Regions from separate parts of the Homo sapiens genome. Here region 1 is linked to region 2. The links come from fine-mapping of genetic effects on gene expression. A gene starts in region 2. The other region holds a variant in brackets. All regions are shown on one strand. Distances are from middle to middle.

What was found. PIP is the estimated chance that this variant, and not a neighbour inherited with it, causes the effect.
Region 1: its variant is the best candidate, but not a certain one, in a credible set for the expression of DNAI3 in testis (GTEx, PIP 0.63).

What each region holds. Positions count from the first base shown.
Region 1 is chr1:85,114,529-85,119,528 of GRCh38, forward strand. DNAI3 (dynein axonemal intermediate chain 3) reads left to right here. Exons shown (of 23, transcript NM_145172.5): 17 at 3,201-3,331. Among named protein-coding and RNA genes, the nearest start is that of MIR4423, 17 kb to the right of the region's middle. The variant T/A (reference allele first, on the strand shown) is at 3,112.
Region 2 is chr1:85,059,819-85,065,356 of GRCh38, forward strand. DNAI3 (dynein axonemal intermediate chain 3) reads left to right here and starts at 2,509. Exons shown (of 23, transcript NM_145172.5): 1 at 2,509-2,668. RefSeq lists an enhancer at 2,144-2,644.

The DNA of each region.
Region 1 (5,000 bases), 54 kb after region 2:
GAGTGGACATCCCTGTTTTGTTCCTGATCTTTGGAGGAAGGTCACTCTATGGCCATGATCTGCCTCCTGTGTGAATGGCCAGCTTTCAAGACTTTGAGATCAACTATGGTATTTCAGATTTCCTTTGGTCACACTGCCGACTATCCGCCCATTCTGACCAGACTTGGCCCTGTTAACTAGAATATACTCATAAGGTTCTTGATCACATTTTGATTCTTGATCCTGTACTGGTTTCTCCTTTGACTGTATCACAAGTCCTCGCTATCCCACCATTTTCTCTTGAGGCCTGTTGAGACTTAGTGTCAGTGTCTGGTACTCTGTCACTATCTAATGGCCAGGGACCACCCACCCTTTGTCTGCCATTTTAGGTCCATGACAACCCATGCTCTTCTAAGTGGTCACTTTAAGAAATTCTGTATTTATTCTGATAAGGAAACCCTTGCTCTAAATGCTTTTGGAATTCCTCTGTTGGAATAGCCTTTAGAGCCTGACATATATTCTTCTAAGCAATGTGGCATAGCAGCTATGACGGTAGATTCTGGAGTTGATGGTCTGGGTTTAAATCCCAAAGCCACAATGTATTATTTGACCAAGTTAAATTACTTTACCTCTCTGTACCTTAGTTGTTTTTTTGCTTTTAAATCCATTTGAAAATAGAGTGAGGAAGATGAGGGGAGTAAATAATAAAGAGAACTACCTCATAGGGTGTTGTGAAGATGAAATGAGTTATACACGAAGCTCTCAGAATAGCACATAGTCAACACACAGCAAATGTTAACTACCATGTGTGAGACCTTGCATAAATTACTTAATCTCTCTAAGCCTCAGTTTACTCATCCTTGGAGGAGGATGAATGCATAACCACCTGGAAGTTCTTGTGAGGACTGAATGAAATGGTTCCTATAAAGCACACACTTTAGTGCCTGGCATGTAGTAAGCATTCAATAAATGTCAGATGCTGTTATTATTACTATCTCAAAGGATGGGAAATCCATGACCTATGAGGATGATTTTGAATCTAAGTATCCAAAGTTATTCCCGTCAACTCTGAATAAACATAGTTAATAACGTTTTTCCCTAGCCTCACCTTCTTTGACTCTATCATAGCCTTCCCCAACCTTTTTTGCACCAGGGACCAGTTTTGTGGAAGATAATTTCTCCACTGGGTGGCAGGGGGAGGTGGGGGCAGGGGGGCAGGCATTAGATTCCCATAAGGAGCGTGCAACCTAGATCCCTTGAATGTCCAGTTCACAATAGTGTTCACGCTTCTGTGAGAATGTAATGCTGCTGCTGTCTGACAGGACATACTGCTCAGGCAGTAATGCTCTTTCGCCCACCTGCTGCTTGTCTCCTGCTGTGCTGACCAGTTCCTACCAGGCCACGAACCAGTATCTGTGGCCCAGGGGCTGCAGACCCCTGCTCTACCACATTAAATGCTATTAACTCAGCCTATTTTCTTGGAGCGCACACTTCTCTTAGCATCTGTGATTTTCCTATCCTGCTACTTCTTCCGTTATTCCTCCTCTATCTCCTTTCCTGGCTCCATTTCACCTTGCTGCCATCTACTCATGAATGTACCTTGAACTTTAGCTTCAGCTGTGTACTTTCCTCATTGGTAACACAGTCTACCTGCATGGCTCTAACTTTTATCTCTGCTGAGAATTCTCCATCTGACTCTTGCTGTCTCCTGGGTTTAAACCCAATCTACCCTATCCAAGTCAATGTGTCCAGAACAGGATTGATAACTTGAGTCATTCCTGATTCTCTCTTCAGGCCTCCACTTCCAGTCTCTCACTCAAGTTAATCATGTTTTCCTTTACATTTATCGCACCTTTGCCTCTTCCTTTTCATTATCAGTTGTAACCCTATAGATCAGGGTCTTGTCTCCCCTTGTGAGACCAGAAGTCTCCACACTTTTAATCTTATAGCCCCTTGTTTAACATTTCTGAGTTCAGATTCTCAATGTATGTATATGTATTTACAAATTATATACATATTCTACTTCTCTAATATATTTGTGTACATGATTTAAAAAGAGAGGAACAGACATTGAAATGTGAGTGAAGAATTTGAAATAAATATTTTAATGATTTTAATTGTATACATTAAATGGGTACAAAATGCCTTTTTGCTCTTCCTACATGTATTATAAATAATATCTTTTAATGAGAATAATGTGATTGAATATGCCCAGTCATGTTTGAAATGTTGGTTTACACTTTGTAATACAGCTATTTAAAGATCTAGTTCGATGTTTGGTTCATTTTGATACTCGTTTTTGATGTCTTACTTAGTGGGAAAAGATACGTCTCAAAACATGTAGATCCAAAACAAAGAGAGTATTGGTTGACTATACCAACTAAATCATGATAATCATTTTTAAGTTTTGTCCAGAATTATGCTAAAGTTTTTTTTAAATGTAATATGTCTTTTTAGTATAGCTGAAGTTTTATTCTCCTGTTTTAGTTTTCACTTGTCTGTTTGTTGGTTGGTTTTATGGCTTTTTGTTTCCTCTTGGGTAATATGACTCAGAGGACATATTGAGGAAGTGTGGTAGAGGAGGGTTTTATGAGCATATATTTCTCTACCATCTTTCCCAGGAATTGAATATCATATTTTCAAAAATCTAGTAAGTTACCTGGAAAAATGTTTAGGACATAGCTTTAAGAGAATAGAAAAGCAGCATATAAAACTAAAATAGGATATTATCCAGTTTTTTAAAAAAAAGTGAATTTACAAGAAAAGTCACAATATTTTAATATTATCTCTGGGAGACATGATAATGGATGATTTTCGTTCTTTTACTCATGCTTTTCTTTATTCTCCAAGGCTTAAATAAATAACATTTATTAATTTTAGATTACAAAAAGACTTTTAAAACAAGGTGACATCAAATACTTTTAAAAAGAAACAGGTTGCCGATGATGTTTGTGTTTCAGCCCCCGAATTACCTATGCTCTTACACTATGTGCAGGTATAGCTAGAGCTATAATATAGCACAGTCATTGATGTTTGGTTTGGAACAAAAGAGGGTTCTTTTGCTAAATTAGAAATCTAAAAATGCTTGGACTTATGCTCACTACATTGGGAAGGGAATGGGGCAAATGCAGG[T/A]GGCAAGGGGCAGAAAATGTAAACTGTCTATATTTTAAAAGATGTTTCCCTGTAAATATGTACTTCTTCTACCCACACTCCTCTGAAAGACAAAATGTTAGCACAGAGCAAAACAGAGAAGGCAGAAGAAATGAACCCGTATCATAATCTGGAAAGTGGGATGGCCAATCTTCTCAAGCCAATAGATGACTTCTGCACAAAGTTCTTTGTGGGAACAGAGGTAAATTGGGATTATCTGCTTTTAAAATTAATACTTATTTATACTAAAATATGTTATTACAATATCTACTGTACATTTTTGCTGTGTAAAGACATAAAAGTTATACCATTTTCATATTTTAGTATGCTTGTTTGCATTAAACATTTTTAACTCTGATACCTCATAGTTTCACCTTTAAAATGTTCCTGAACGTATGTGGACAAATCTGTAAAATTGCATACTTTTTAACTAATAATATATTGTTCAATCTACAAATATTCATCAAATACCTTTATCATTTGGAAGAAACCATACTAAGTGTTAGAGATTTACTAAGAAACTATAGTGTTTTGTTGGGCTAACACAATCTAGTAGAAGAGACAGAAAAAACTCACTCATTTCAAAAGATAAATAACAATTGGATATAATAATGATAATGGCTGCCATTTTCTAAGGACATACTGTAATAATAACCAAAGCGAGTTCACATTTACTGGACATTTTCTATGTATCAGTGTCTGTGCCAAGTTATTTTCCAAATTATATCCCATTTAATCCCAGTAATCCTGTAAGGTTGGTATTATTATTGCCATTTTATAAATGAAGAAATGAGGCTCAGAACTTTATCTACAGTCATACAGAGGCAGAGATGCTCTTTTCACTCATGACTCTCATTCCCTGAAATACAGAGTATTTTTCCCAGGCCAAGTCACCATGAGAAGAGGCCATAGCTCAGTCTCACCAGAATGCAATCTTCATCCACACTTTGGTATGAAGAGGAAAGCAATCAATTCCACAAGCTCTGGAGAACATGACTGTGTCTCAGGCACAGCACTGGGTGCTGGGATCAGAAGTGAATAGCATGGTCCCTCTCTCCTCAAGGCACTTTCTGCCTAGTCGAGGAGCAGACACATGATAAACACCAACACCAGTCCAGAGGCCATTCCGATAGGAAGAAGGAGGTTGGGGAAGGTGACCCACAGGCTGCTTGGATGTTGGAGGTTGAGAAGGAATCTCAAAGGTCAGGTTGAGAGTAGAATTCCAAGCAGAAGTAACAGCCTGAACAATATTTGGAGTTATGAAAGCCCAGTATTTGTCTGGAGTTAGTGAAATAGTTTGGTGTAAGAGGGAAAGGTATGTCTAGAATGCCTGGTTGGAATCCAATACTGAAGAGCCTTTCCTGCTGTGTTAGGTAATTTGAGTTTCATTTAGTAAGCAATGCAACACTACCAAATAAATATGTGCTTTATAACTTGGGTTTCACAGCAAAGTTTAAAAAATTTTTTTAATTGTGGTAAAATATATGTAACATAAAATTAATCATCTTAGCCATTTTTAAATGTACAATTCAGTGGTATTAAGAAACTCCTTTCCCAAAGGAGTTCAATAATCTGTTGGAAAAGTACATTCATATTGTACAACCATCACCACCATCCATGTCCAGAACTTTTCCTCATCCCAAACTGGGCGTCTGTACGCACTAAACACTAACTCCCTCTTCCTTTCTTTCCCTACCCACTTGTAACCACCATCTACTTTCTGTATCTACGAATGTGACTATTCTAGATACCTCACGTAAGTGGAATTATACAATATTTGTCCTTTTGTGCACCAAAGTTTATAAAGCAGGGGAATGACACCATCAGACCAGATTTAGAAAAATCAGTGACTGCAAGATCTTAAAGCAGAA
Region 2 (5,538 bases):
TCAGGGGCTGTGCAAAACCACAGGATGAGCATGTCACAGTTGCCTAAGGTTTCTTTGTGTTTATTCAGTTTTCTGTCAATTTTAGTTAATAGTGGCTTTAGACATTTTTTTAAAAATTGAAACAAACACGAATCCATTGCAAAGCCAAATGCAAAAACTTCATAAATTCTTTATATGAAACAAATATGTCTCAGTTGCAGAAGTCTATTTCATGTTATAAACCTTCTTTCCATCAACCTACTACTCACTCCTGGCCCCTGTGATTTCCTGCTCCTTGGCTGTTAAGGGTCTTCAGTTAAGAAGCACTGGACTAAAATGTGGGTTGGGCTGGGGACAGAGGCAGGAAATGAGGTTAGAAAAATAACTAATTACCTTCCAGATTTATTTCCAGTGTCTTTCAGAACCCTGTTTATACAGGGTTTCATATGCCAGATTGAGCATATTTAAGCAGGGTGACGTCAGGATTCAAACTATGGAAAATTATGTGGCAACTTGGCAAATAAATTAGAGGGAAAGAGATAGAACAAGTCAAAAGACTATTGCTACCGTCTAGGTGAGAGATAAGGCATATCTGAAATAAGGCAGAGGCAGAGGATGGCTAAGAGAAAATGGATTATTTGAGAGACAATTAAGAAAGAAAAATGACAGAACTTAAATGATATGTTGACTGTGGGCAGTAGAAGAGGAGTCAAGGATGACTTTCAGATTTCGTTTTGCAACTGATGGACAATGATACTATTACCTAGGGTAGAAAATAAAGAAGGAAAAAAAGTTTCTGAAAGATAATGAGTTGACTTTGGCTCTGCTAAGTTGTGGTGCTATGGTCATTCATTCATTCACTACATTTAATCTTTATTTAGCATCTATTAAACAACATGAACTGAACTACACAGGTAGTTGGAAATGTCCAGTAGCTAGAGGAAATTCAGGTATGGAATTTAAGAGATATGTTAGGCTGAGAATGTAGAAATGGAAGTCCAGTGTGTTTAGTGGTGATGGCTGAAGCTAAGGGGAATATATGATGCCGACGCCACCAGGAGAGTGCGAAGAGTGACAAAAGAAGACTCAAGACTGAGCCCAGGGGAAAACGAATCTTCCACTTCCTGGGAGTGGACAAGCTGGAAAAAAGTTGTCAGAATGTTTAGATAATACCTCTTTTTTAGTTTTTTTCCTTCATAATTTGTATTGTAAAATTCATTTGAATTTTGTGAACACAAATTCTTCAGAAATTTGAAAGAATCTATATAATCTTTCTGCACATAACGTAAAAATCTTCATTCAGGATCCTTAAAGTCTCATATGTTATAAATGATTAGCCTCTTCTCAATTAAAGATTTTATTTAAATTGGGTGTAAAAATTAATTTAGACCAATTACAGAAGTCAATTACATTGCTTTATTAAATTCTGCCAGTTTACAAATTAGGAAGTTATTATTATTATTATTTTTTAAGACGGACCCTCGCTCTGTCGCCCAGGCTGGAGTGCAGTGGTGCGATCTTGGCTCCCAGGTTCAAGCGATTCTCCTGCCTCAGCCTTCTGAGTCGCTGGGACTTACAGGTGCACGCCACCACGCCTGGCTAATTTTTTTGTATTTTTAGTAGAGACGGGGTTTCACCGTGTTAGCCAGGATAGTCTCGATCTCCTGACCTCGTGATCTGCCTTCCTCAGCCTCCCAAAGTGCTGGGATTACAGGCATGAGCCACCGCAGCAGCCCCCTGAACTCTCATATGTTATAAATGATCAGCCTTTTCTCAATTAAAGATTTTATTTAAATTAGGTGTGAAAATTTATTTACACCAATTACAGCAGTCAATTACATTACTTTATTAAATTCTGCCACTTTACAAATTAGACAGTTATAATTATTTTTTAAGGGAAAGGAGGAGAACAGTGTTCAGAGAGTTGAGCGTCACTGTATGAATCCCACCGGACTCCTAATCACAGATAAAATGAACCTTGGGTTACTCACGGATTCAAGTTTCTTCCCCGGAGACTCATATTTACAGCTTGAGTCAAATTCTAAACAAAAGTTATTCTGGCAAGAAGGAAATGTAACCCATTAGGGTTCTGGGGCGCCCACGACAACCAGTGGGGCGCAGCTTCCTCTCCACTCCCTAGGAGGGCCCAGCTCGCTGCAGGGGGTGGGCAGGAAAGCTGCCCGAAAGGATTCTGAGCGGGCAGCCTCCTTAACATTTTCTCTCCTGGTTCCTAGGGTCCACACCCCAGAAAGATTCTTCTCTGGCTGAGATTGCGGTGGGTGTGAGGCATGGACCGAGCCTGTTAGACCTGGGGTCAGGCCGGGCCACTGTCATTAATATACTTAAGACACAAAACTCTTTCCTTGGTAGTGGAAAGCTGCTGGCCTCACCCGGTTCGCGTTGAGTGACGTCACATAGTGGCAACCAATCACAAGTCTGCTTTGAAAGATACTGTTAGGGAGCGGACACTGTATTGGTAGAGATGCTCTGTCAGTCTCGCAGAGGACTCGCCTCTTTTCTCTTAGCGACAGATGCGTCCTGGCAACAGTCGGCAGAGTTGCTGCGGTTTGTGCCCTTGCGATTTCTTTTTCTGAGAGAGGAGAGTCAAACTCCCACCTCCAGCTCTCGAAGGAGCTTTTCCTGAGGGCACTGCAAAGAGGCTCCTTTTCTTTCAGATCAGCAGTATCAGGTAAGAGAAGCTCTGAATGGGAAAGGCGGCTTGGAAAACAAGTATTTTACTCACTCTTTCAAGGGTATTTGAACACTCGCTGTGTCAGCAATGTGCTAGGCTAGTGGCAGTGAAGACTACAAAAAACACAAGTCTTTCCCTGCTTTCAAAGAGCTTCCAGCCTCGTGAGGGAAACAAAAATAGCAACGAGAGAGCAGTTAACGACACTCTAAGAACTTTAAGGGCATGTACTGTCTTGTTCCCATGTTATATATACCCAGTGACTATCATATTGCCTAGTACATAGTAGGAACTCAATAAACCATGAATGAGTCAGTTAATGAATGAATGAATGAATGAATGAATGAATGAATGCCAAAACAGCATGATTCTGATTATCCGTCTAGGGGCGGGGGTCAAACAATAAAAGATTAATGTGGGCTGAAATAGATTACTTCAGGACTGTTTAGAAAGGGCTAGAGTAGATAAACAGTGAGGAAGATGAACAGGGAACACAAACTCTTTGAAAGTAAGGACATTGTCTTATTCCCCTAGTGACTAGTTTACCCAGTACCTAATTGCTGCGCAATACTTTCTCCTTCTTCTTGTGTATGGTGAATGCTAAATGAATTCACAGCAATCTTTTAGGAAGCTCAGAGTTTGAAGCCCTCTGCCTTTGCAGAGGCCTGACATAAGTAATTACACATAGTATGACTGGAAAGTGTCAGGGAGAACAAGATTGTTTCAGCCTGAGTGAGGAAGTCAGGGAGGCTTTCGGCTTTGGGGGAAAAGTTCATAATTGCCTTGAATGATGAGAAAGATTGAAGCAAGCAGAGAGATGCCTGCATGGTGTGGACCAGGAGCAGCAGGAGGGGTGGGAGGGAAGGGGATTCTCCAGAGAGGGAGGTGGGAAAGTCCTCGACTGTTTGGGAATGAATGGAAACCGTGTGAGGCTGGAATAGAACTGGAAAGGTTGACGCAGTGAGGCACACTGTGAAAGTACTGAAGGCCATACTTATGTGAGTTCAGACTCTATTTTGTTTTGCAAAATCTGGTGTATAGACCACCAGTGCAAGACTGTCTCACAATGCTTTTAAAAATGCGGAGTCCCAGGCTCAACCCAGACCAGCAAAATCAAAGGAGGTCCAGGAAATTTGCATTTCAAATGAGCTCCATTTCTACAATCTGGAAGAGAATGCTACTGTGAATGATAGGGACCCATAAAAAGTCATTATACAGGGAAGAGACTTGATAAGAGATGCATTTTTGGAGAGCTCTGAGGTTGGCCTCTTGAGTAGTTGTTCTGGTTAGAACAGAGGCAGAGAGGCCAGTTAAGTGTCCATGATCTAGGGCAGAGGATTCAGGGAGGAGAATCTGTGGATTTTTTTAATTACATATTTATTTTCACTAACCACCAATTGAAATGTATTCAATTGGTAACAAACCACAGTAGTACTCACAGGCCTGTGACTTTGTTAGTAACTCTTTTCATATTACATTAAAGAGATTGTAAATATATTATTTATACTCATCATTACCTCACAATTAAGGTAGTTATTAGAACCACAGCTAGATTTTGTTATTTAACGTGTTAATAAAGTACAAATTATTTTATCATAATTTAAAAAATATTTTAATAACTATATTTCCATATAATCTGTCTTCTTTGTAATCCCATGTTTTTATTTGATGCATGGGCTTCACCAGGCTGCCAAAGGTTCATGGCACAAAACAGGGTTGGAGCTCCAGTTTTGGAGGACATGTTAAAGACCTGAACCAGAGGAGGCTGTGGGAGAGAAGGGCTTGGAATTCAGAAGATATTTGGAAGGGAGAAGTAATAGGATAGCATCTACTCAAATAAGTGAATATCCAATCTTGGAAAGAAGTGGAAATAGGTATGGAAGGAAGGAAACAAGAGTATAGACTAATAGACATTGTAGGAATAGTTGTCTCTAGGGGTGGATGTTGTATACTTGCCAAAATATGGCTGAAGGACCCAGGAGAATCTTGAAGTTTAATCAGGGTCTTAGTGAAGATTTACTGAGAATCAATAGTTCTTGCAGACGCATTTACCAGAGGCCCAAGATGTTAGTCTTGGGTTTTATTCTAAATCAATGTTTGTTTGTTTGTTTGTTTGTTTGTTTTAAAGATATCCCTGGAGAGGTACCTCACGTCTATAATTCCAGCATTTTGGGAGGCCGAGGCAGGAGGATTGCTTGAGGCCAGGAGTTCTAGACCAGCCTGGGCAACGAAGCCAGACCTCACCTCTTAAAAATAAAATAAAAAGCTGGGTGCAGTGACTCACGCCTGTAATCCCAGCACTTTGGGAGGCCGAGGCAGGCAGATCACCTGAGGTCAGGAGTTCAAGACCAGCCTGGCCAACATGGCAAAACCCCATCTCTACTAAAAAATAAAAAATTAGCTGGGCATGTTGGTGGACACCTGTAATCCCAGCTACTTGGGAGGCTGAGGCAGGAGAATCGCTTGAACCCGGGAGGCGGAGGTTGCAATGAGCTGAGATTACGCCATTGCACTCCAGCCTGGGTGACAGAGCAAGACTCTGTCTCAATTTAAATAAATAAATAAATGTAGAAAGATGGAAACAAGCATTATGAGCTTATAAATTATTTGGGAAGAGGAAAGAGGATGATGACCACCTAGATGAGGTCAGCTAATTGAAGAAGACCTGGGAAGATAAGACTTTCGTAAGGAAGAACCCAGTTAAAGAGAAGGTGCCAGTGCTACAAGTCCTTTCATAATCAAGATCTCTTGGCTGGGAATAAGCCACACATACACACAGGCAACAAATGAGAGCATGTAAACAGGTGTGTGCTATCAACCTAGATAGCAAGCAGAGAGGGGGACTCTCTAAAATAAAATGTTTATTTGAG